7 linked regions of the Homo sapiens genome follow. The protein of the gene in region 3 interacts with the protein of the main gene of each other region in a pairwise test. Each region holds a gene or a part of one and is shown on either strand. Other genes may lie near its edges. The genes, in order: IMMT, EXOC1, TRAF3IP1, ANKRD36B, MEIS3, CFAP58 and ERV3-1.

Region 1 (3,500 bases), about 150 Mb from region 3:
TGTTTAAAATGAAGAAAGCTGATGGATTTGTTGAGTTTATAGCCACAATATGTAAAAGGGGCTATAGTGTCCTAAACCTTGTTTCTCCCATTTGAAATACATTACCCTTCTTTAAATAATTTTGAAAAAAAAAAACACTTTTTATTTTGAAAAAGTTTAGATATACAGAAAAGAAAAAGTAGGCTGGGCACGGTGGCTCACGCCTGTAATCCCAGCACTTTGAGAGGCTGAGGTGGATGGATCACGAGGTCAGGAGATCGAGACCATCCTGGCTAACACGGTGAAACCCTGTCTGCTAAAAATACAAAATATTAGCTGAGCGTGGTGGCAGGCACCTGTAGTCCCAGCTACTCAGGAGGCTGAGGCAGGAGAATCGCCTGAACCCAGGAGGCGGAGGTTGCAGTGAACTGAGACGGTGCCACTGCACTCTAGCCTGGGCGATAGAGTGGGACTCCGTCTCCAAAAAAAAAAAAAAAAACAAAAAACAAAAAACCGGGCACGGTGGCTCACGCCTGTAATCCCAGCACTTTGGGAGTCCAGGGTGGGCGGATCATGGGGTCAGTAGATGGAGACTATCCTGGCTAACATGGTGAAACCCCGTCTCTACTAAGAAATACAAAAAAATTAGCTGGGCGTGGTGGTATGCACCTGTAGTCCCAGCTACTCGGGAGGCTGAGGTAGGAGAATGGCGTGAACCCGGGAGGCGGAGCTTGCAGTGAGCCGAGATCGCGCCACTGCACTCCAGCCTGGGCGACAGAGCGAGACTCTGTCTCAAAAAAAAAAAAAAAAAGAAGTGTAATAAAGCTTCATAGATTTATCATCCAGACTAAATTATCAGTATTTTACCATGTTTTCTTTTTTTTTTTTGAGAGAGTCTCGCTCTGTCGCCCAGGCTAGAGTGCAGTGGCATGATCTCGGCTCACTGCAAGCTCCACCTCCCAGGTTCAAGCGATTCTCCTGCCTCAGCCTCCCAGGTAGCTGGAACTACAGGCACCCGCCACCATGCCTGGCTAATTTTTGTATTTTTAGTAGAGACGGGGTTTCACCACATTGGTCAGGTTGGTCTCAAACTCCTGACCTTGTGATACGCCCGCCTCGGCCTCCCAAAGTGCTGGGATTACAGGCATGAGCCACTGCGCCCGGCCTTTACCATACTTTTAAGTGAAACTTTGATTCCCTAAATTTGAGTCTCATGTATTTTGTTCCTTTTTAAATTTTTTGGGAAATGCAATGGAAGACTAGATAGGAGAACAGCAAAAGTTTAAAGTCATTTATGGGGGTAGGATTTGTTTTTTAACTGTTCTTTTTTTTTTTTAAGCTCTAGCCAAGAGCTTAGAAGATGCTCTGAGGCAAACTGCAAGTGTCACTCTGCAGGCTATTGCAGCTCAGAATGCTGCGGTCCAGGCTGTCAATGCACACTCCAACATATTGAAAGCCGCCATGGACAATTCTGAGGTGAGCCCAATGAATGATTAGAAGTGTTCTGGCTGTCATGACTTGGAGGACAAAAAGAAAAATCGAGGGTGGAGAGAAGTGTAATATTTAACAGACTGCTTTCTTCCGTATGATATCGGCTTTCTCTCACTAGGGGAAGATAGTCTGGAATAATTAATCTTTTTTTGTTATTGTTTTGAGACGGAGTCTTGCTCTGTCGCCCGGGCTGGAGTCCAGTGGTGCGATCTCGGCTCATTGCAACCTCCACCTCCCAGGTTCAAGCGATTCTCCTGCCTCAGCCTCCCGAGTAGCTGGGATTACAGGCTCCCGCCACCATACCCGGCTAATTTTTGTACTTTTAGTAGAGACAGGGTTTGCCATTTTGGCCAGGCTGGACTGGAACTCTTGACCTCAAGTGATTTGCCTGCCTCGGCCTCCCAAAATGTTGGGATTACAGGCGTGAGCCACTGTGCTTGGCCTTAGAGTAATTATGTTTAAAAAACAAACTGAAAAAAGCCTTTAAGTTTTTTAGAATGAATTTTATACATTGTGCTTTACTATATCTTACAACACCGATGCAGCGCAAGAATTAGTTCAGATTTGCTTTCATATTTTAATAGCACTTAAATATTTTTGTTGTTTGCTTTAAAATTGCTATTTCCATAGGTAAACTTTTTAAGATACTTCTCAAACTTCACATGCAGTTTTAAGAAATAATACAGAGAGCTCTCATGTTCCCTGAAACACCTGCTATTTTAAATGTTTATGATTATTTATGCGAAACACTTCAAAGAATGAAGTAATAACATTGATTTTTCAAAATTTAATACTGGGACTTAATACATTATTTTATAATTACATTAAGTTATTCAGTATGTATAAATGTATCTCTATTCCAAGTCATTTAAGGAGTAAATTAAAGTAAAATGCATAAATTATTAATCTTAAGGATCAGGATCATACATGGTCAGTAAAGTTACTTTGCCATCATAATTGTAGTTTTAAAAAAAATTTTACACACACTTTACATTGTTTCAGTCGTATGTACTTATATTACAAAAGAGTTTAATTAGACCTCTGATGTTAGTAGCAAGAAACTACAACCTTTGAAATTTTAAGGAAAATTCCATTTTATTCAAAGTCCAAGAAAAATACTTAAATATCAGAGTTCAGTCAGCAAAGTGGAAACCACCCAGGAAATTTAATTTGCTGGTTACCGATATGGGAAGGCTAGAAGTTGCGTGATGTAAGGGTGTTGGGTTCAAACCCAAGTAGACCAGTATCCCTCAGAAGGACACGGATTGGAAGCTTTAAATGCCATGTTACTACTTGGGTATAAGGGTACACAAGGTGGTATTTCATCTTCCTAACGCACATAATGTGTAGCACATGGTGATTAGACAGTGTAAAATCTATTGCAGTCAAGATTTTACAATCTAATGGTAGCAGTTAACAGATGAGAGTATTAGCTAATGTACAAAATAATTGGAAAAATGTATGAACACATTTTGGAATGTTAAGAATGAATTCCAGCTTTTGTTTTTTCTAGTACAAGAAGCTACAGGTGCACATGTAATTTCTAATATATACTGAATAACTTTCACAAAGCAGTGTTTGTGAAGAGTTGGATTTGGTAATACTAGGATTTAGTTTGGTTGTAGGGGAATCTGTGTCTGTTACAGGGTAGGTTTTCCTTGGACTTCTGTAAGCAGGAGTACCTTCAACAAGGGTGATAAATTTTGGCCCCCAGATATGTCATTGACATTTACATGCTTTGTAATTCTATTTGGGTCAGTTCATGTGGCCCAACTCAGCATCCATTCCTTTTTTTTTTTTTTTGAGACAGAGTCTTGCTCTGTCACCAGGCTGTAGTGCAGTGGCGTGATCTCTGCTCACTGCAACCTCTGCCTCCCAGGTTCAAGCAATTCTCCTGCCTTAGCCTCTCAAGTAGCTGAAATTACAGGTGCCCACCACCACACCTGGCTAATTTTTGTATTTTTCGTACAGAGAGGGTTTCACTATGTTGGCCAGGCTGGTCTCGAACTCATGACCTCAAGTGATCTACC
Region 2 (3,500 bases), on a different chromosome or scaffold from region 3:
GTTTGTTTGTTTTGGTCTTTAACTTTGTAGGCTAACATCCAGTCAATCATGGCATCTGAAAAACAAGTCAACATCCTGATGAAATTGCTAGATGAGGCTCTAAAGGAGGTAGATCAGATTGAATTGAAACTGAGCAGTTATGAGGAAATGCTCCAAAGTGTAAAAGAACAAATGGATCAGATCTCTGAAAGCAACCACCTAATTCATCTTAGTAACACTAATAATGTAAAACTCCTATCTGAGATAGAGTTCCTTGTGGTAAGTATGATCATAAATTACCAACAAAAAAAAACTAGTGATGATATATAAAACCCATTTGTAAACATTTTTTAATTTCCTTGTGAGAACAGGATTTAAAATAATTCCAAAGACCTAATGATAGGACTGAATAGCATCTTGCCTGTAAATTTCCCAAAATTACACATGCAAATGGTGTGTTTGCATATATTCTAGAACCACATGGACTTGGCCAAAGGTCATATAAAGGCCCTTCAGGAAGGAGATCTTGCTTCTTCCAGAGGCATTGAGGCCTGCACCAATGCTGCTGATGCCCTTCTGCAGTGCATGAATGTAGCTCTTCGACCAGGTATGTTCATTAGAAATGACAAAAATGTGACCAAGAATGTGAGACTAAGCCTGTAACTTGTTATAAAGGTTTTGACAAGAAATACATGAGACAAGTGGTTTAAGGGTTACATTATTAGCTATTCAAGTTTCACTGATTTCCCAACTTATTTCTATTGATACTAGGAACTTTTTTACTTCAGTTCCTCCTTCTAATTGTCCTCAATGACTATAGTCAACACCATGATCTTTATTTAGTACTATCCACAGAACCCAGCAGAAAGTAGGTGCTTTGGTTAGACGAGAGCAATTATTTCAAAACTTGAGTGTCCGTCAGAATCCCTAGAGGTCTTGTTAAAAACATAGATTGCCTGGCCCCAGTCCCAGATTCAGCAGATCTGGGCTGAGATTTTAGAATCCACATTTCTAACAGTTCCCAGGCGATGGTGAGGCAAGACCACACTTTGAGAACTACTGTGAAATCCCATTTTTCTCCTGCTTAACTTTTATCATGTAAATGAATACACCCATAAAACTTTTGGGTTCTTCAAAACGTTAGATACGTTTAATGTTCCATTAAACATCAAGGAAATCTTTTTACCCATTAAACTGGTCACAAAATGTCGTTCTGTGTCAGGCCATGACTTGCTTCTGGCAGTCAAACAGCAACAGCAGCGATTCAGTGATTTGCGAGAGCTTTTTGCCCGGAGACTGGCCAGTCACCTCAACAATGTTTTTGTTCAACAGGTAATTTTATTTTATTATTAAAACGAGCATGTTCCTATAGCTTATTTATGTATTAACCTTACATTTCCACAAAAATGTTAATATGTTTAATTGGGGTTGCAGTCAATTCCTTCACATATTTGATTTTAAGATTTTGAAATAGGAGCCTCTTTGCTCATAGATGTACTTTGGGCCTCAGCTGCCTCTTTTGGTAGACAGTCTAGTTCCTTTCAGCTGATGCTCTCTGATTCTAGAAATCAAATAACTATGCATATGAATTGCATATACTACTTAGATATTTTTATTTATAAAGTAAGTCCAAACTTGTTAGATATTTACTATTGGACCTGTTTTATTTTTCAGTATTTTGAGGTGAGACTCAGGACTTGATTCAGTGTTTTAAATGTTTTGTAAGTTCTATGTACTTAGTACATAGTATAATTGTTAAGAAAATGACTAGCTCAACTGCAAATTTCAGTTGATCTAATCTTCATATAAATGCTTTACCTATATTTTTATATGGAAAAGGATGTTATAATTAAGAGTGTGGTAATAATATTGTTATTAATAATATTAAGAGTACCTTTGAGGGATTTGAATAAAAGCCATTTTAATATCTAATACAATAAATTAGGTTTCTTATTTTTTCATCTCTTTTAAAAGTCCCTTTTATTTTATTAGAGTTATAGAATGAAAAAAAATTGGGGGAATATCTCGTTCATCAAGAAATACTGCCTGAAAACAATGGATTTTTACTTTATTTTCACTTTGCAATATTCTAAAACAATTGTATTTACTATATTTTATTTCCAATTAGTTTACTCAGGCCCTCCTTCAACTCTATAACAGGTCCTACTTTCTTTCGGTTCCTGTGAGTACATCAAATTTGGCTCAAGCTTCTCTGATTCTGTTTTTTTTTTTCTATAAAGTTTGCTAAACTTAACAGCAGCCGAATCTTTACAGATTATAACTTACTGATTTAAGCTACCTGTTAACCACATTCGTAGCAGTTTTTAAATGTCCCATAGTAGAGACTATTTTGGCCAAAAAAGCATTTAATCTCATTCTGCTTGCTTTTCTTTCTGTCATTTTTTCACTCCATTTAGTAATAAATAGTAATATTACTCCTTCATTTAGTAATAGTAGTAATATTAATCCTTCATTTATTTAGTATTGCCAGGTGATTGAGGTACATACCAGACATTAACTTGGGATAAATGAGAGACCAATCCTGTCCTCTAGTAGTTCACAGTCTAGGGAAGCGAGACAAACAAATAATATACTCAAGAGGGATAAATGTTATGACAGCGAGACTGTGGGAGTGTAAAGGAAGACCACCTAACTAAAAGCACGGTAGGGGGGAATCAGAGAGATTCCCTTAACATTCCACTTGACTGAAAAGTGTCGAGAAAAAAGTAAGCTTAAATGTCACATAGGAAATACTAATTCATGTTTTTGTTAGGTACTTACTTCAATAACATCTATTTCTATACAATTCCTTAGTTTTTAAAAATGACACTGTTGACAATTATGTTATCCACATTTGTTAGATAGTATTGAAAATACCAGCCAGTAAACAATAGTCTTTTCTGTACCCTTAACTGTTTGTTGTAACATGCAGTTATTTATGATTTTGCTTCTTGCCTTGTAAACTAATGGCCTCGTTTAAAATGAATGCTTCCCATTTCTGAAAAGCTGATATGTGTTATTACATGTGAGTGATGCATGTTAAAAATCAGAACGCTGCGACAACCTGGGGTGTGCCAAAAACGGTGGAAGAAGATATCCCACACATAAGAAAGATTTTCTTAGTGTTGCATTCAGTGCATCAGGTCACCTAGCAAAATTGTTGAGAAACATGGGTATTTCTATTCCTGGTAGGGAGACAAGCTGGGAAAATTGATTAAAATAATATGGTACACCTCTTTGGCAATCACAGAATTTTCATTGTATGCTTATTATGTACTCACTGTCTACCATATATAAGAATAAGCAATAGTTCCTACCCTCAAGATGCTTGTAAGAAGGAATTAAAACTAATGTACTTACTCTTTGTAAGGAGTTAAGACTAATGTACATTAGCAATGTATGTAATAAATTGCTAATTGTAGAACTGTGGACTGTAAGTGCTAAAAAGGTTTAATCAAAAGTGAGTTTATTGAGAATTTAAGGAGTGAGATATGGAAGGAATTGCAGATAAGGTAGGACTT
Region 3 (3,500 bases):
CCGCCTTGCTCTCCAGGACACAGCTTCCCCACAGCCCTCAGCTGCAGCTGCTGCTCCTCCCACCGGCCTCTTGTCACGGGCCCAGAGGGAAGGTCAGTAATTTCCTTATGCTTGCTTCGGCTTCCAGATCACTCTCCCTAAAAACTGCCAACTTTAAATCTTGTCACCCTCGACCCCATCATTGCTGCCATCAGCTGCCAACCCATGGTCCCACCCAGTCCTCCTGGACCCGCCACTCTCACCAACGGTGCTCCTGTCTTACTTGTGATTTCAAGTATTGAGAAATGATCCTTCCAAAATCCTGGCCTTGGGTCCCTGAACCCTGCTGGGATGATCCCACCTCCCACACTCGACGCCCACTCCCAGGGGCACCCCTGTCACTACCACTAACAGCAAGCTCCAACCTCAAATCCAAGCGCCCCACTCCTTTACCACCACTATCTATATTCCCAGCTCACCGCCCTAGGACCTGACTCCAACAATCCTTCTATCCATCCGGCACCTTCAGCCTCTCAATCCTAATGCCTCCTCCTGACCTTCACCCCGAGGGCTCCTCCCTCACTCACTGGCATAAATCCCACATTGGTCATGACCGTGGCGCTTCCACATACTCCTACTCCTTCCCTTCTCTCTCGGTGCACTTGCTTGGCACAGCCGAGCCCTGTTTAATACAGCCTGTGCCCCCCAGTGCCTGTAGGTGTAGCCAACTGCAGCTGCAGAACAGGCCCCGCCACACCATCTTCTGTCTCTTTACGCCCAAGTCCACCAGATGCTGCCCTGAAGTCAGCTGTCAGCCACGGCCTCCGCCCAGGCACTATGGGCAGGCAGCCCATCCTCCTTTGTGGTGGAGACTGTCCTGTGCATTGTAGGAGGTTCAGCAACTGCCCTGCCCTAACCCCTCCCCTTCATCAGAACACCAGAAAATGTCTCCAGATCATGGCCCAGTGTCCCCAAAGTAGGATCACCCCTAGAGGAAAACCTCTGCTCCAGTCTCTTCACTAGCCCACTCTCGTGCACAGCGACTTCACCCAGCCCCTCTCTCCTCTGACACTCCTCTTCCCCCAGACCCTCTTACGGCTCATGAGAAAAATAAGTACCAGAAAATCACCTTAAGAATCTGCATCACACCATGTGCCGACTCCACCTCCGCGCCCGTTCCCACACCCACACGGGGACTCTGCTCCACCAAACCCCTGTCCCACGTCGCCTACGTCATCAATTTCCCCTTTCCACTGGATCATTCCCGTCATTAGAAAAATAATAACTCCCCTTGACACCACCTTTCCCACTTTCTAGTCTTATTCCTTCCCTTCTCTTTGTGGCAAAACTCCTAGAAAAACACATCTACTCCTGCCTCCAATCCCTGCCTCTTATTTGATCTGAAACCCACTCTGATCCATCCTATCTGTTGTTTGTCTTTATATTGCTTATGACTTTATTTTTTTTTTTGAGATAGTCTCACTCTGTCGCCCAGGCTGGAGTACAGCAGTGCAATCTCAGCTCATTATAACCTCCACCTCCCAGGTTCAAGTGATTCTTCTGCCTCAGCCTCCTGAGTAGCTGGGACTACAGGCACACGCCACCACGCCCAGCTAACTTTTGTATTTTTAGTAGAGACGGGGGTTTCACCACATTGGCCAGGCTGGTCTCAAACTCCTGACCTCAAGCCATCCGCCCGCCTCGGCCTCCCAAAATGTTGGGATTACAGGCGTGAACCACCAGGCCCAGCCTGCTTATAACATTTTGATCACCTTCTATTTTTAATTTTTCTGCAATTAAGCCCCTAATTTTTTTCCCCTATTTTTTCCTAATTCCCCTATTGTTTTCACGCTTAGAAAGTCTTCAATCTAGGGGTCAGAGAAATGCAGTCCAACATTTTCCCATAGATGTGAAGATGTATTTTACATGTATGCATGGTTTTTCTCTTTCATCCATCTGACATGTCTGTTGGCCTATGGTGTGAGGCGAGGGCCTACCCTCACTTTTTGTTCCTCAATAGCATGTTTCCAGCACCATGTGCTGCTTCCCTCCCCCTTCTCTTAGCGGAGGCACCATGCCCACTGGAGAACACACTGTGTGGCTGGAACTGCCCTGCTGAGCCAGCCTTACCTATCCATTTGTAGCGCCTCCATGCTGTCTTGCCGTTTGACCCGGGGAGGGGCTGGTCTTGCACTCCCAGGCCGAGGAATTCTTCTAAACCCAAATATTGGAAAACCAAAAAAGGAGTATGAAAGGCTTATACATTTCAAACTGGAAAAGAAAGCCCAGGTGAATGTTAACTCTCATCTCCAAGCCATAATCAATGTGCTGGTTAGGACACGCTACTCTGCAGAAGAGGAGGAACGTCCCAGTAACCCGACCAATCAGAAAGTGTCCATCTTTCCACTTGTATTTTCAGTAATTTCAAAATACCAACAACTGTCACTAATCAAAACATCACATAATTCAGCTATAATTTTGAATTCCCCTAAATCTCCAAAATATTATATCACTATATAGTGATATAACTCCAGTACAGAAAACTGATATACTTCTTGTATTCTTTGTATAAGTAATTCCTCATAAGTTAGCTCAAGCACTAAATAAATAGCAGCAGCCAGAAAGAGAAGCACAGCAGTGTCCTAGGTGTGATCACTCTGCTGAGGGAAAGGGATTCAAAGCACACAGACCTGATGTTGGATGAAAGCTCATTAGGAATTTCTGGAGTCTCTGGCACCTCAGACTTATCTTGGCCAGCAGGTCCAGCATCTCCTTCTAAACAAATGACAATCAATTAGCAATTCACAAAGGAAAACACACATAGATAACTATTTGAAAATACTATTTGCATCTGTATTTGCAGTTATTTGCAATCAAATACATTTGTAATTGCAAATACAAATGAGCAATTTTTCCATCAATCATGTTGATGAAGAGAAAATCGATGTCTGATATCTAAACTCAGTGAAGATTTGGGAAAATGGGCACACTCAAACCCAGGGAATACAAACTGGTTCAACTACTTCAGAAATAAAATTCAAAAGGCAGGCTGATCAACTGAGCACTTAAAGGAAATACAACCCAAGAGGAGAAATGGACACATGTCAAGATGTTCACCCATCGTCACTGGTAATACTGACAATCAATCAGTAACTAAGTAAATTATGGTACAGTCACATGTCAGCTCCCTTTTGTGTGAAACAATCCAGTACAGTAATATATCTAACAATTATATACATATGCATATATATATATACAGGGTTCTAGAAGAATATTCATTTAAGTTATAAGCAGTAGAATTACCAGTGCTTTTAATTTTTGTTCTTTTTTTTTTGCATTTTTAAATTTTTCTACATTGGTATACCATATTATGTTTATAATCTGAACAAAGTTTTCTTCATTTTGATAAAAAGAATTAATCAGTAAATAACAAGGCCTAAACTATTAAGACAAGTTTACTCCACTATTTAAAGTAAAAGGAATTAACACTTCAGAAAATAGTCAGAATTTGAATATTAGAA
Region 4 (3,500 bases), about 140 Mb from region 3:
TTGTTTATTGGTATCTTCTGTGAACTTTTAGCCTCTTCAGAGGCAGAGGGAATATTTTTATTTGTGCTTGATTATTTTATTATGCATAGATTTTAGTATATACATAAGTTTTTATTATAGTTTTATTACATATAAGGAAACAATTTTAAATTAATTATTTTAGTTTATCAGTGTCCTCATGAAAATGAAAATGAGCAAATATAAGTGATTATCACTATTCCAAAAGCACTGCTTTAATTTATAGTTTTTTTCACAATAAACTTCCCAACTGTATGTATGCATTCTTTCAATCCAGTTATTCATCAAGCATAACCTGAATACCTATTATGTAGCAGACACATTCCACCATCTCTCAGGACTCTTCCACCCTTAACAACTTCATGTTTACCTGCCCAGCCTGAGCAAGCTGAGATTTAAAATGGAAGCATTAGGACTGAATCCCAGTTGGATCTTTTATTCCTTTTTTTTTTTTTAAACAAAAGCAATTCTGAAGTTAGAAAATAGTGAAAGATAACCTTTAACTGCCATTTCAAAAACTTATGACAGTCTCAAATACTACTATTAATCATTGCAAATACCTAATTTACATAACATTCTGTAAGTATTGAAAAAAATGAGCCATACCTATTCATTTGAATCCTGAGTTTTCTTTGGATTATTTTTTTTTGAAAGTTGAAGTAAGAATTACTTTGTTTTAAAAATTTGTTTTTTTATTTTTGCCTTCTTTTTCCACAGTACTTCATTTAGGTGCCAATTATATGAATAGAACTGCCTGTTCTATGAACTGTATCCCACTTAATGTAAGGCATCACGGATTGGGTGATGCCACATTACTTTATATATCGATAAGATAATGTTTAAAATGTTGCCAGTTATAAATGTAATAAATAATGAATTGTAAACAGTTTTCCAATGTCAGGAGATGTTAATATATAAGAGAATAGTAGCTTATATAAGAGAATAGTGAGAAAATGAGCATCTGAGAATGACTGAAATACAATGATACATCTAATCTTTAATAGATACCTCAATGTAGATATGATTGTATCATTTTACTTAATTAAAATGTCTTTGTCTTTGTAAGTAGTGATATCTAAAAATTATTGAGCTGTTATTTGTGTTAGAAAGTGTTCTAAATGCTGTGCATAGATTCTTATGTAAGCATCACAGCAGTGTTCTGTGGGCTAGCTACTATTCTCTTACATATTTTATTGATAAGGAAATTGAAGCAAAGAAAGGCTAAATAACAGCTAAGTGACAGAGCTTACAGTAAATTTTAAGCCCCAATTAAACTGAATCCAAAAGCCAAGCCTTTTCTATTAAATAGCCTGCTCTTTCATTAATGTGGTGAGTAATAAGCGCTAACAAATGTTGTACTTTCTTCACAAGAAAATTACATATTTGTTTTGAAGACAGAGAAATAACATGCTAATTAATGCTTACAGTTACATGTTTTAAAAAGTCCTGTCACTCTCACAGGACTGCCCTACATTTGGCCTGTGCCACTGGCCAACCGGAAATGGTACATCTCCTGGTGTCCAGAAGATGTGAGCTTAACCTCTGCGACCGTGAAGACAGGACACCTCTGATCAAGGTACATAGTAGCTGACTCTTTGAGCATGAGATGGATTTGGTTGAAGTACATAGGATAAAATGAATTTATCTCATTGGAATACCACCATATAACTAGTAGGAAATCCTACGGAGTGTTTATTTTGATTTTTTCAGTATTTGCATGTTTCTCGGTCTAATACTGACAGGCTGTACAACTGAGGCAGGAGGCTTGTGCAACTCTTCTGCTGCAAAATGGCGCCGATCCAAATATTACGGATGTCTTTGGAAGGACTGCTCTGCACTACGCTGTGTATAATGAAGATACATCCATGATAGAAAAACTTCTTTCACATGGTACAAATATTGAAGAATGCAGCAAGGTATAGGTCAACCAATGTTATTTTCAAACTATCTGAAATGCATTTATTTTAACATTGACACATGTAAGGGTCAATTTTTCATATTTGGAAGCTCAAACATTCCTTGAATGAAAATATTTTGAAATGCCTTAACTGTCTAAGATTTTACTTTAAATATTGGAACTTTTAAAGAAGCATTATAGGGAACAGCCTTTTTTCATGCACTTATGGTAAATAACTATAAAAACAAATGAATTACAATAAATTTATAATTCATGACAACTGAATTTGGGAAAGGTAATAGTTAAGTGTTTTTCCACTAAATTACTTTTTTTCTAATCAGTGTGAAGTGACACAGGAAAGTAAAATTGTCCCTTATAAATAGGCTTTATTTTAAATGTCAAAGAAAATTAAAGAATTTCACAATAAATGTACATGTTGTTGCTGTTGACAAGTGTTGTATGTGAAGGTGATTTCATTTGAAAGTGATTCCTCTGTGGAAAGGCTTAAGAGGGAAAAATGAAGAAAAGGAGAGCAATCAGAAATGCACAAGCTAATTTGGAAATTAGGTAATGAGGGAAAATACTGTGGAGAGGGTTTTTGTGTGTTTTGTTGTTTGTTTTCAATTTATATGTTTAGACAAAGATCGCTTCAGTTTTGGGGATGATTATTCTTACTTTGGGAAAGAGTTTGTGAGTTGTGAAATTGCCCAGGGATCAATTTTGGTAAGACTCTGAGGAAACCAGGTTGGCAGTGAATAGTGGTGATGAAGCGGCACACAGTTCAGCAGAGAGAAGAACACATAATTAATGGACATTATTCAATTCTGGCAGAAACAGCCACTCAGATAAGCATCTAAACTCTACTCTCAAGTCCAGAATGTCTTGATGGGCAGGTGGGAGATACGGAGCTTATAAATAGTAAAATCAAGTTGGATTTTGAGCTTACTAGTCTCTTCCCTACCCCTACCCAGGAAAAGTAAATGAAGTCTTCAGTGAATGGCTCTATCTTTTGCTCTTTCCTCTTTTCGGCCAAATCCCAAACGATAAAGGGAATTTGCCACGTGGGTGAGAAATGAGACTGAAGTGATTATCAACTGTGCTGGTTCGCAGTTAGAATTGTGCATGGCAGTAACCTGGGGAAATTAAAAGCAAATCTCTAAGTCTAGGATATCCCCTGAAGATTTTAATATAGTAAATCTAATATTTACTATTAAATATTACTGGGCATGTATGTTTTAAAATATTTCCTTGAAGCTGGGCATGGTGGTGCCTCTAGCCAGAGCAACAGATTAAGACACTGCCTCTAACAGCAACAACACAACAACAACAACAACAATAAAACATTTCTTGGGACACTGATACGCTGCTGGTTAAGAACCACTGAATAGATAAGTGTAATATAAATTCCCATATCTCAAACACACAAAAAATCTCTAGAAGAGCTGGAGATAGGTGCTGCTTCCTTTAAATTTCTCCTTTCCAATAATATTGGCCTGACTTTTACCTGTCTCTACCTCTGTGGTTGGGAAGTGGAAAGGACTATTATTTGCAGTATCTATCAGCATAAGAATAACACCTTTTCTTT
Region 5 (3,452 bases), on a different chromosome or scaffold from region 3:
TACCTCCACACTGACCAACCACCCACACATCTACCCATTTATCTGTGCATTCACCCACCTCCCTACCCAGGCTTCCACCCACCTACCCATCAACTCACCCATCCATCCACCCACACATCCCATTATCCATATATCCACCCACCCACCACCCACTATCCATCCATCCATCCATACCTACATACACCCATTCATCTATGATACATCTCCAAACATAAACTGAGCCCTTGGCTGGGCACGGTAGCTCACGCCTGTAATCCCAGCACTTTAGGAGGCTGAGGCAGGTGGATCACCTGAGGTCAGAAGTTCGAGACCAGCCTGGCCAACATGGTAAAACCCTGTCTCTACTAAAAATACAAAAATTAGCCAGGTGTGGTGGCATGTACCCATAGTCCCAGCTACTCTGGAGGCTGAGGCAGGAGAATCACTTGAACCCAGGAGGCGGAGGTTACAGTGAGCCAAGATCAACCTGGGCAATAAAGTGAGACTCCATCTAAAAAAAAAAAAAAAAAAAAATTGAGCCCTCACTCCATCCTGACATGCCTCAGGTAGGGTCTGGATCTTGAGAAGATTCTGGTCTTGTGGGGAAGTTGGCAACCCCAGTGACAATCCAGTGTAACAGTTCAAACAATAAAACGTAGTTTCCCCATAGGAGGGAGTCATCAGCTATCTCTGGGGTATCAGGGAAGATTTCCTAGAGGAAGTGGCCTCTGGATGGGGCACTGAAGGATGAATAGGAGTCCACTGGGCAGAGTAGGGAGTAATGTGGAAGGGGGGCATTATTTGACTTTCCCAGGCCTTGAGTCTTCTGTGGCCTGGTATGATGGCGGCACTTTAGAGCATCTTCTCATTTAGTCCTTACAACGATCCCGAAAGGGGAGACTATTAACAATTTTAATTTCATAGATAAGAAGACTGAGGTTCAGAGAGAAGAGGTCACTTGCACAGGTCTACCCTGCTCACAAAAGCAGAGGGAACAGCATGTGCAAAGGCCCAGGGTAGGGAGGCAGCCTAGAGTTTCCAAAGCCCAGATCAGAGTTTGACTCTCTCTGGATTAAACCATTTGTGGCTCCCTAGTGCCATCTGGACAAAGTCCTAACTCCTTAGTTTAGCATCCATCTGTCCATCCATCCCCTGAGCCCCTCTGTGCCCAGCCCTGTGCTGGGTAATGTTGGGGACACAACAGTGACCATGACAGCCTCAGCCCTGCCCTCATGGGGCACAAAGTCTAGTGAAGGGGACAGACCCATCCCCAGATGGTGATGCCCCAGAACGGGCAGGGCTGGGATGGTGAAGCCAAGGAACTGGAGGAGCTCACAGGGGGCGGGTGTTGGACCTGGGATGGGGGGAGGTGTTTAGAGAGGGCTTCCTGGAGGAGGGGGCATCTGACCCAGACTAGAGGATTCAAGGAGGGCTGCCTGGAGGAGAGGACTTTGGAGGTGAGACCAGCAGAATGGGAGGAGTGAAGCAGGAGAGGAGCATCTGCAGAGGGAATAGCACGTGCCAAGGCCAGGAGAGCTTGGAAATCTCGTGGCTGTGAGACAGCCCCAGCCCCCTACACACAAGGAGGAAGTTCTCTTTGGACTGGGTTGAGGCAGGCGGCCGGACAGGTGGCTAATGAATTCAGGGCCAGCAGAAAAGCCCTGGGGATGAGAGTGGAGGCCTGCACAGGGCTTATGCATGGAGGCGGGTGCTGGAGGCCGAGCCTGGGAGAGAGATGGGCAGGCGTATCCAGGCCAGGTAGGGCAGTGGGCGACTCAGCTCTTTCATGGCCAAGTGTGGGTAGGGATGGTCTGGGGTGAGTGTCAGGGGACCTTTGGGGTCAGTAGTGATGGAGGGGTCTTCTCATCCCACTGCCTGGCTGCCCAGTGGGCTCTTTTCTCTGCTCCTTTCTGTCTCCTTTTCTGTCTCTCCACTCCTGATCATGGCTCACTGTAGCCTCGACCTCCCCAGGTTAAGCGATCCTCTGGCCTCAGCCTCCCAAGTGGCTGAGACTACAGGCGTGCGCCACCATACCTGGCTAATTTTTATTTTTATTTTTGTAGAGACGGGTCTCGCTTTGTTCCCCAGGCTGGTCTCGAACTCCTGGGCTCAAGCGATCCCCCTGCCTCTGCCTCCCAAAGTGTTGGGGTTACAGGCATGAGTCACCGCGCCCAGCCTCCTGTCTCTCTTTCTCTCTCTCCATTTCGTCTATTTCTTCATGACTTCTTCTCTCTCTTCCCATGTCGTTCTCTCTGACTCCCTCCAGGTCTGTCTCTGTCCTACTCTGCCTGTCTCTCTCCTTGTTCTCTGTCTCTGTCTGTAGGTCTCTCCCTCCCTCACCTCCACTCTGATTCTCTGTCTCCCTCTTTCTCGTCACTGCGTCTCTTCTCTCTGTGACCCTCCCACATCCCTGTGCCATTCCCCGCCAGCCACTCTCTCTGTGTCCCCCTCACATTGGGGCTGATGAGGCCTGCACAGATGGGCTGGGGTGGGGCCAGGCCCCCTGCCCGCTCCTGACTTGGCCTCTCCTCCCCTCTCCACAGACCCAGCCTCCGGCTGTGACCCCCAGCCTCACACCTGCCTCTGGTTCCCGCCTGGTCCTCCAGCTTCAGGACCCCACCTCCAAAGGCCCCTCTGCTCAATGCCTACCTCCCTAGGGCCCTGCTGGGACATGGGGGCCTGAGTGCCCATCCAAGGGCTCTCAAGGACACCGGCAAGGCCTCCAGGCCCTGAGCCCCACTTCTGCCTTCACCTCTGCCTGGGACCCGAGCTGGGCTCCTGGGCCTTGGTCCCCAGAAGATGGCGGCTAGGGCCTCGCCGCCAGGACAGAGAAGGGACGGGGTGGCTGGGCAGTCAGGGAAGGAGGGTCGCCCGGATCCGACATTTTGGAGAGATTCCTTCACTCTCCTGTCCCCCCTACCTCCCTTCTCTAATTTCTTCTTTTTTTTAATGATAAAGTCTTAAAAACACGGAGCCACCAACTGGAGTTCTTGTGTCTATCCCAAGATTTCAAATTCTTACCAATTTGAAGCTCGTAAATCACGAATAAGAATACTGATTGGCCGGCTGCAAGCACGATGGCTCACGCCTATAATCCCAACCCTTTGGGAGGCCAAGGCGAGTGGATCACTTAAGGCCAGGAGTTCAAGACCAGCCTGGCAACATAGTGAGACCCCATCTCTACGAAGCAAGCAAACGAATTGCTTGGGCATGGTGGTGCACGCCTGCAGTTTCAGCTACTTGGGAGCCTCCCAGAGTGCTGGGATTACAAACGAGCCACCAGGCCTGGCCAAGACTCCACCTCTTAACTAGAGGGAGCTGCAGAATTCCTGCAAGAGATGTGTGTGCAGGGGAGAATGAAGACTCAGGGCCACGCCTGCGTCACTTCACCAGCTGTGGCTGTCCAATCACGTCCTCTGTCCCATGGGAAATGAGCAGGTTAGGCAGGCACACCCTCACTTCCAAGGCTTCCG
Region 6 (4,168 bases), on a different chromosome or scaffold from region 3:
TGTGAGAATAAAAAGTGCACACCTTTCTCCAGTAGGGCACATGGCACGGGAAAGAGAGTAGAGACAGTTTTTCAGCCTCCATTGCCCCATGGCTGGATGTGTTTGTGCAGGACGCAGCTGCATAAGCAAATGTCCCTGTGCATCCCTATAACTTTAACAATCTTACTCCTTGGCATATATTTCAGAGGAATTTGCACAGAGGTCCTTAAGGGACCACGGACAAAGACGATCATGGCTGTATTACTTGATGTATTGGAGAATTAGAGGCGGCCTTGTTACCTAACACCTGGGGAATGGAAGTGAAGTGTGGTAGATGCCCCTTATGAAACGCTGTGCAGTACTCAGAAGCAATGAACTATATGCTTGCCAATCGCAACGAGGACAGATCCTTAAAAAGAATGTTGAGTGAAAAAAGTAGAAAATAAGATAATCTCCAAAGTCCAGTAGCATTATTTAAACATTTTTAAAAAATACACTGATAAAAATTTTGTACATTTCCCAAAAATACATATGGAAGCACAGCAGCATGAATGCCTATGGGGTTGAGGATAGGGGTTGGGAGTAGGGATGGGGATAAAGGGGGAAAATAAAACCAGAGAGGAGTCTTACACATTTCATGAACCAAGGAGTATAATTATTTCAACTATTTGTACCTGAAGTCCAGAAAGAGTGGAGGCAGAAGGGGGAGAAGAGGGCGAAGAAACGTTTTTGGGAGAGGGGTCCCAGAAGAGAGATTTTCGCGATGTGGCGCTACATACGTTTTTCCAGGATGCCTTAAGCTCTGCACCCTATTTTTCTCATCACTAATATTAGATTAAACCCTTTGAAGACAGCGTCTGTGGTTTCTCTACTTCAGCTTTCCCTCCGTGTCTTGCACACAGTAGCTGTTTTACAAGGGTTGAACTGACTGAAGTGAGATTATTCCTCGTTGTCTCGGAAGGCAGAGTGTAGCCGCCAGTCCTTCCCTCATCCGGAACCTTCTGGTCCACATTTCCTTCCAAGCGTTAGTCCTCGGCTCTCCATGCTTGGCTCCCTAGTGTCACACACCGTCCTTTCTGGGTGGCCTCTTCCAATTCGCCCTCTTCTTTCTCCTGGGTGTCTCCATCTGCCCACACCGTGGGACTCCTCCCAGCCTCTCAGGGGCACCGCCCCCTCACTTCCTTGGCTCCGCCCCATTGGGATATATTTGCATATTTCTCTGAGGAACCCTGCCCAGGTGCCAGCCGCAGAAGCTCCTCCCCTTTCGAATTCCCGCTAGCGCCCCTAGAGGGCGTGTCCGTTGCCAGGCGACGGGCCGACGCGCCGAGCGCGGGTTTCCGCTCGGGGCGGGCGATAGAGACAGCGCGTCGCGCCTTTAGCTTCTTTCCCAGACTCCGGCCCAGCTCCTGCGATCTCCACAGCAGCCTCTGAGGCCGCCCCCAGAGAGCATCAGGATGGCTGAGGTCAGGAGTCAGCGCCCCTCTGTCGCCTTTCCCTTGACCCCTCCCCATTGTCCCTCTCCTACTGACGATTGTCACAAACGGTGATTCCAATATTTCCCCCCATCAACATCTTATTCCCCTGCACCCTCACTCACTCCCGCGCCTTTCTCCGTTGGCTCTGGCCTCTTTACCTCCTGTTTCTCCTTCATTTGTGTGGACACCCCACTATCCCCACTGTGGCATCGGCGCTATGCTAAGTGCGGTAGAAAATTAATGAATTCTGAAATCCACACGTGACATGCACCCAGCCCTAGATTTTTAGTCATGGAGTGATACCATAAGAGAGGCTCACACAGAAATATTGGAGATGTCTTATCTCACAGGGGAAACCGGGAAGAAAGCTTCACAGATGCCTGCTGTCATCCCAATCAATGGCCCTTGTCCACCTGTCACACCCTGATTTCCTAACATGTGATCACCTGCTGTCACACAGCTTCATTAAGGCTCTTCTGCCCATCACCTCTGCCCCGTGTGTTCATTGACTCCTGTGTTAACATCTCGTATCACCCCACCACTCCCCCATATTACAGTACACCCCATTTTCAGCCTCTCCAATGAGGGGTTATTTCTGCAACCCTTCAGTGACTCCCTGCCTGCCCCTTAGCCCCCTCACGTATAACCTCAAGAGCCTCGGGTCCCTGTCATTACTTGCCATTCACAGTCCCCATCCACTATGGCCCTACCCAAATCCTTCATGGCCCCATCAGAGCCCTTCCCCCATCACCCATCCCACGGTCTGTTCCAGCCAGGACCAGCTACATGATTTGCAAGGCCTGATGCAAAGTGAAAACACAAAGTCTCTTCAAAAATTACAAATAATTTTAAGACAGAACAGCAGAGCATTCAACCAAGAATGGGGCCTTTCTGAGCAAGGGGCCCTGTGCAACTGACCAGTTTTCACTCCCATGAAGCCAGCCCAAGCCCCATCATCTTTCAGCACCATCGTGCTCCACCCCCTCCCCACCCCATTCTAGTTACTCTCTTGCTTCCTCTGCACCATTCACATCCCCTCATCATTGCTTTTCCTCCATCTCCAGTCTAGCTTTATAAATTCCGTCTTCCCGTGGTCAACACCTCCTTCCTTTCCTTATCATACGATCTCTTTCATATCATCCATCTTCCTCACGCCTGGGCTCCATCACTCACATCTCTCTCTGACATCCATGCTGCTGTGGCCACTTCACTTCTCCCCATTACCCATAGTCATTTGTATCTCTTTCTTCCCATTTCCTTTCTTGTTCCTTCTAGTTCTTTATTGTCCCATTATTGCTTTTGAGTGTTTTCTCCTCTTTTCTCCCACCAGTCATCTTTGTTTATTTCATTCTTCATTCCCCATAGGGAAGCCCCAGCCTCCCAGAGGCACCAGCCCCTCATTTCCTTGGCTCTGCCCTATTCAGGATATATTTGCATATTTCTGTGAGGAACCCTGCCCAGGTGCCGGCCTCAGAAGCTGCTCCACTATTATGGATTAGTTATTTCCATTTCCCTCTTTCTGTTACTCCTCTCGTTTCTTCCTTTCTTCTACTTTTCTTCTTACTTGACCTCAGCCAACTTTCTCGATTCTGCTTTCACAATTCTCTATTTCCCCTCTGGCCTCATCTTATATTGCAGTTCTCTTTTCCTTTTCCCTTTTCCTTCTCCCCACTAATTGATATTCCCAGAACTTAGGACAGGACAGTGCCTGGCACATAGCAAACAATCAGTGAATAGGTGAAGAATAAAGAAATGCCACAGTTCCTTTCTGATCAGTTCACGTTGATTTCATCCTTCTGAAACAGATACCATTATATGTTATAACAGTGGAAATATCAACTGTTTATTGGCCAAAGCTAAGAGATTATTTTTCCTTTGCTTTTAATGACAATAGGAACAAATCTCTTTTGTTCCTAAAAGTTTCTTTAAAACTTTTCCTTCTTTGGTATTTTTCCATTCCTGTGCTAAGTGCCAGGTAAACAGGTAAAACTTGGACTGCTAACAAATCATTAGGCTGTTGATCAAGTGTTGACGTTAATACCATTTACAGGGATGGAACCAAGAACAGTGCAGTGACAAATTTTTGTGTGTGCTTATGTTTAGCATCAACAAGGGAGAAGAACAGAACAGCAGCAACACCGTATTTCCTTAATATGGTTTTTCCTCCTTTGTGGAATTACTACATTGTGGTCTTTGCAATAATCTGCTTTTAGTCAGGAAGAAAAACCTATGTGAATTTAAAATTAGTACTAAAGTTGTTATACAAAATGCTATAGATATGCTTGTGACTCTACATTTATTTTAATTTACAAAGACTGTTTTGCTTGCATGTCATCGTTAGAGATTTAATTAATAGTACAAGTGTTTTCGAAAACCAAGAATACGTAGACTTTTTCCATATTGGGCAAGACGGGCTTGTCAAAACAGAAGGTAAACTAGACTCCTTAAAATCTTCAGGGTGAATTGAAATTTTACTTTATTATTGGGACTACAGATTGTTTCAGTTGGTTTCTTTTAGCAAGAGAGTGTTGATGCCAAGGCCCTTTGTAGAGTAGAATATTAAAACATAATGTTGCAAACGTAAGTAAGGCCTTGCAAGCCTTATGAGTCCTTTGCTCAAAAGTCTTGAGTGGTTCCCTGTGGCCTGCAGAATAATGCAATCCGTACTCCTTTGAATGTAATTCAGTGTCTTCACTGTGTGTCCCTCACTCCCT
Region 7 (3,500 bases), on a different chromosome or scaffold from region 3:
TACCATACTTTCTTTATCCAGTCTGCCATTGATAGGTGTTTATGGTGATTCCATGTCTTTTCTATTGTGAGTAGTGCTGCAGTGAACATGCATGTCTTTGTATCTTTATGATAGAATAATTTATATTTTTTGGGGTATAAACCCAATTATGAGGTGCCTGGGTCAAATGGTAATTCTGTTTTTAGTTCTGTCATTGCCACAATTCTTTTCACAATGGTTGAATTAAGTTATACTCCTACAGGCAGTGTATATGAGGCAGGAAATATAAAAGGAAAAACAAGTAAAGGGAAAACAAGTCCTTCCCTGATCAGTCTGACTCACTCCAAAGTCCTGCTGGAGCTATGATAACATTATCTGCAAGGCCAGGCAGGGACCCCAAAAGAATGGGCTCCAGGAGCAGAGATGAGAAAAACAAGTTCTCCTTATCAGTTTCCGCCTTGAAATTCTTTCCCCATACCATTATTCTTTGTTCTGCTCTCACAACTATTTTTGTAACTATTTCTGCAAGTTTGCAAAGATTTCATAAGTTCCTGTTTTTCTTTCTGTAGCACGGCAAGGTCACAAGACATGCTTAAGTAAGATAGGGTCATGTTGCAAATCCTGTTGTAAAACCTGTCACGGTATGATTAACTGTCTTTGTTCTGCTTCTGTAAGACTGCTTTCCTGTCTCACAGGTTTCATGCCAAAAACCTGACCCGCCCCTGTTGGTTGCATGTATAAAAGTCAAGCCCTGTCATTGTTCAGGGCTCAGCCTTTGGATGTTCATCGGCTGGGCTGGTGGTCACCTAAATAAAATCCTCCTGTTCCACCAAGTGGTCTCTCCAGCCTCCTGATTCCCACAACATTTTGGCGAGCCAGCCAGGAGGGGAGACTACAGGTTTACTGTCTCCTTTGGCTGTGGGACTGGAGCCCCGGGCTGGGGGAGACCCGTGACCCAAGGCACCATTGGGAGACCTTCAACCCGGAGGGGAGATTGGCTCTCCCATGACCCGGCGCCCCTCCCTGACAGTGCATTGGAACCTAAGGGGCTACAGGACGATTCCAGGACTTCACGCTACAGGACTGCAGTAAGGTTTGGGCCCAAGGCAGGACCCGTCCCATAAGGATGGAAGGGGAGCCTGATCACCTCCTGGGGTGTACCTAGTAATCCGACTCAGGACATGAGAGGGGCTCGCAAAGTTGGAAGAAACCTACACCCCAACTGACCCAGGACGTGAGAGTGGCTCACTAAGTTGGTTAAGAAAGGAAACTGGAAGTGGGGAGGTGTGTGAATAAATGTGAAAGAGATGGTTCCAAAAGGAACCAACATGCTGAGTGACGTGTGTGGAGCCACAGGTCTCTTAGCATAGACTGTACCATCTGAGTGAAGTGTGGAACCGACCGAGACTAGTGGCAAACATCCTTTGGGGCTACGGCATATGGCTTAGGGAGGTGCCCCACAACTTATAGATTGTGGTGGTCCGGGTTCAGGACTCATATGAACCCTCCATTAAATCTAAGAAGTGTCTGAAATACTCCTGCAAGGGACACGGTCTAATCAGTCTGAAATGAAAGGAAGAGTGAGTGGGTTCTGCCATAACTGGGAGGAAATGGGAGGGAAGTCATCAAAACCCATCCCATTAGAATGTATGTTAAGGAACTTTAAGTAAGATTATACAGGGGATTATGAGATCAAGTTGACCCCCCAGAGGTTGAGAACTCTCTGTGAAATAGAATGGCCCTCTTTCAATGTTGGATGGCTGGCCGAAGGAACTATAGATAGGGAAAAAATTGGCCGTGTATTTAAGGTGGTGACTGGGGTCGGAGGACAGCCAGGGCATCCAGACCAATTTCCTTATATTGACTCATGGCTAAATATAGTTCAAACTCAACCTGCATGGCTGCAGCCTTGCCTGGCTTCTTATTGCAAAACGCTCATAGCTCGAGCCAAGCCTAAAGTAAAAGAAAAATCAGCTTCACTGTCAGCTACAGAGACAAAAGGAAAGCCACAAGAAAAACCAGTTTTGCAGGAACCAGCAGAGGAGATAGAAACCCCTCCTCCCTATGTGCCAATCTATCCCCCTTTACCAAGGACGGCCCCTGAGCAGCCAGACTCAGATGGTGACACACTCCAGGCTACACCTCAAAGGGGGAAATCTGAGCCCCCACCTCAGGAGGTCAAGAAGGAAAGTCAGGATGATCAAGCAGGCCGCCTTCGACCTGGCCACACCAGAGTGTGGCAGATGCCCCTCCGTGAAACACGGGGACCTATCTATTATGATGAACAGGGGCAGGTTCAAGGGGGGGCAACCGACTTTTATTTACCAGCCTTTTTCAACCACTGATCTCCTAAACTGGAAACACCATACTCCCTACTCCCTCCTACACAGAGAAGCCCCAAGCCCTCACAGATCTGATGCAGTCCATTTTTCAGACACAAAATCCAACGTGGCCAGATTGCAAACAGCTCCTCCTGACACTGTTTAACACCGAGGAATGCCGAAGGGTGACCCAGGCAGCCCTCCACTGGCTGGAACACAATGCACCAGAAGGCACACTTAATGTCCAGGCATATATGCTCAGGGCCAATTCCCAGAAGCCAGCCTACACTGGGACCCAAATGATGCAGCCCAATTACAGTACCTACAGAGGTACTGGGAGGCACTCCTGCAAGGGCTAAAGGAAGGTGGGAAAAAGGCAGTCAACACGGGGAAAATCTTGGAAGTGCTGCAGGAGACTAATTAAAGTCCTGGTCAGTTTTATGAGAGACTCTGTAAAGCATTCTAGCTTTACACCCCGTTTGACACTGAGGCTACTGAGAACCAGTGCATGGTGAACGCAGAGTTTGTAGGACAGGCCCAGGGAGACATCAGGCGAAAGCTGCAAAAGCTAGAGTGTTTCACGGGCATGAATGCCACTCAGCTTTTAGAAGTGGCCACCAAGGTGTATGTTAACCGTAACCAGGAGACAAAGAGAGGCTGATCAGACTTAAGAAAAAGGCCGATCTGCTAGTGGCAGTCCTCACAGGAAGGGAAACTAGCATCGCGAGTGGGTGTGGACATAGCCATGGACATGGAGGGGTTCAGGCCAGGCAGAGACCTGAAAGTCAACCAAGACTATGTAGGAATCAATGTGCGCAATGCAAAAAGAGGGGACACTGGAAAGGTGAATGTCCAGAGGGCAATGAAGAAAATGACAGAGACTATAAAACTGGAAAACTGCCAGCCAAGGGCTATTGTGTCCCAAGGGAGTCAGATACCTACTTGATCAGGCTGGCAGGAACTGGAGAATATGAAGATTAGGCCAGACTGGGCTCCTTCTCTTTAGCCCCCCAGGAGCCCATGGTCACATTAGAAGTAGGAGGCCAGCTAATGAACTTTATGGTAGACACTGGGGCTGAACACTTGGTAGTGACCCAGCCCATAGGGCCATCATCCAAAGATCATACAACTATTGTTGGGGCTACAGGGGTCCCAGAGAAGAGGCCATTTTGTCAGCCAAGGAGGTGTGTCTTTGGAGGA

What was found.
Region 1: the proteins of TRAF3IP1 (region 3) and IMMT interact in a two-hybrid assay, tested with the Homo sapiens proteins (2 studies listed by BioGRID and IntAct).
Region 2: the proteins of TRAF3IP1 (region 3) and EXOC1 interact in a two-hybrid assay, tested with the Homo sapiens proteins (2 studies listed by BioGRID and IntAct).
Region 4: the proteins of TRAF3IP1 (region 3) and ANKRD36B interact in a two-hybrid assay, tested with the Homo sapiens proteins (one large-scale study listed by IntAct).
Region 5: the proteins of TRAF3IP1 (region 3) and MEIS3 interact in a two-hybrid assay, tested with the Homo sapiens proteins (one large-scale study listed by IntAct).
Region 6: the proteins of TRAF3IP1 (region 3) and CFAP58 interact in a two-hybrid assay, tested with the Homo sapiens proteins (one large-scale study listed by IntAct).
Region 7: the proteins of TRAF3IP1 (region 3) and ERV3-1 interact in a two-hybrid assay, tested with the Homo sapiens proteins (one large-scale study listed by IntAct).

The regions. Positions count from the first base shown.
Region 1 is NC_000002.12:86,164,463-86,167,962, reverse strand, and holds part of IMMT (MICOS complex subunit MIC60), read left to right. Parts: intron 1-1,318; coding exon 1,319-1,455; intron 1,456-3,500. UniProt on the Homo sapiens protein: Component of the MICOS complex, a large protein complex of the mitochondrial inner membrane that plays crucial roles in the maintenance of crista junctions, inner membrane architecture, and formation of contact sites to the outer membrane.
Region 2 is NC_000004.12:55,870,648-55,874,147, forward strand, and holds part of EXOC1 (exocyst complex component 1), read left to right. Parts: intron 1-30; coding exon 31-258; intron 259-453; coding exon 454-586; intron 587-1,201; coding exon 1,202-1,311; intron 1,312-2,107; coding exon of another isoform or gene 2,108-2,161; intron 2,162-3,500.
Region 3 is NC_000002.12:238,348,018-238,351,517, reverse strand, and holds part of TRAF3IP1 (TRAF3-interacting protein 1), read right to left. Parts: intron 2,755-3,500; coding exon 2,670-2,754; intron 2,194-2,669; coding exon 2,110-2,193; intron 1-2,109.
Region 4 is NC_000002.12:97,583,378-97,586,877, reverse strand, and holds part of ANKRD36B (ankyrin repeat domain-containing protein 36B), read left to right. Parts: intron 1-1,479; coding exon 1,480-1,594; intron 1,595-1,760; coding exon 1,761-1,934; coding exon of another isoform or gene 1,935-1,940; exon of another isoform or gene 1,941-2,367; intron 2,368-3,500.
Region 5 is NC_000019.10:47,402,624-47,406,075, reverse strand, and holds the end of MEIS3 (homeobox protein Meis3), read left to right. Parts: exon of another isoform or gene 1-648; intron 649-2,522; coding exon of another isoform or gene 2,523-2,662; 3' UTR 2,663-2,952; downstream 2,953-3,452. UniProt on the Homo sapiens protein: Transcriptional regulator which directly modulates PDPK1 expression, thus promoting survival of pancreatic beta-cells. Also regulates expression of NDFIP1, BNIP3, and CCNG1.
Region 6 is NC_000010.11:104,352,465-104,356,632, forward strand, and holds the start of CFAP58 (cilia- and flagella-associated protein 58), read left to right. Parts: upstream 1-1,368; 5' UTR 1,369-1,433; coding exon 1,434-1,442; intron 1,443-4,168. UniProt on the Homo sapiens protein: Has an essential role in the assembly and organization of the sperm flagellar axoneme. Required for the elongation of the primary cilium and sperm flagellar midpiece via modulation of the Notch signaling pathway.
Region 7 is NC_000007.14:64,996,688-65,000,187, reverse strand, and holds part of ERV3-1 (endogenous retrovirus group 3 member 1 Env polyprotein precursor), read left to right. Parts: intron 1-745; exon of another isoform or gene 746-1,067; intron 1,068-3,500.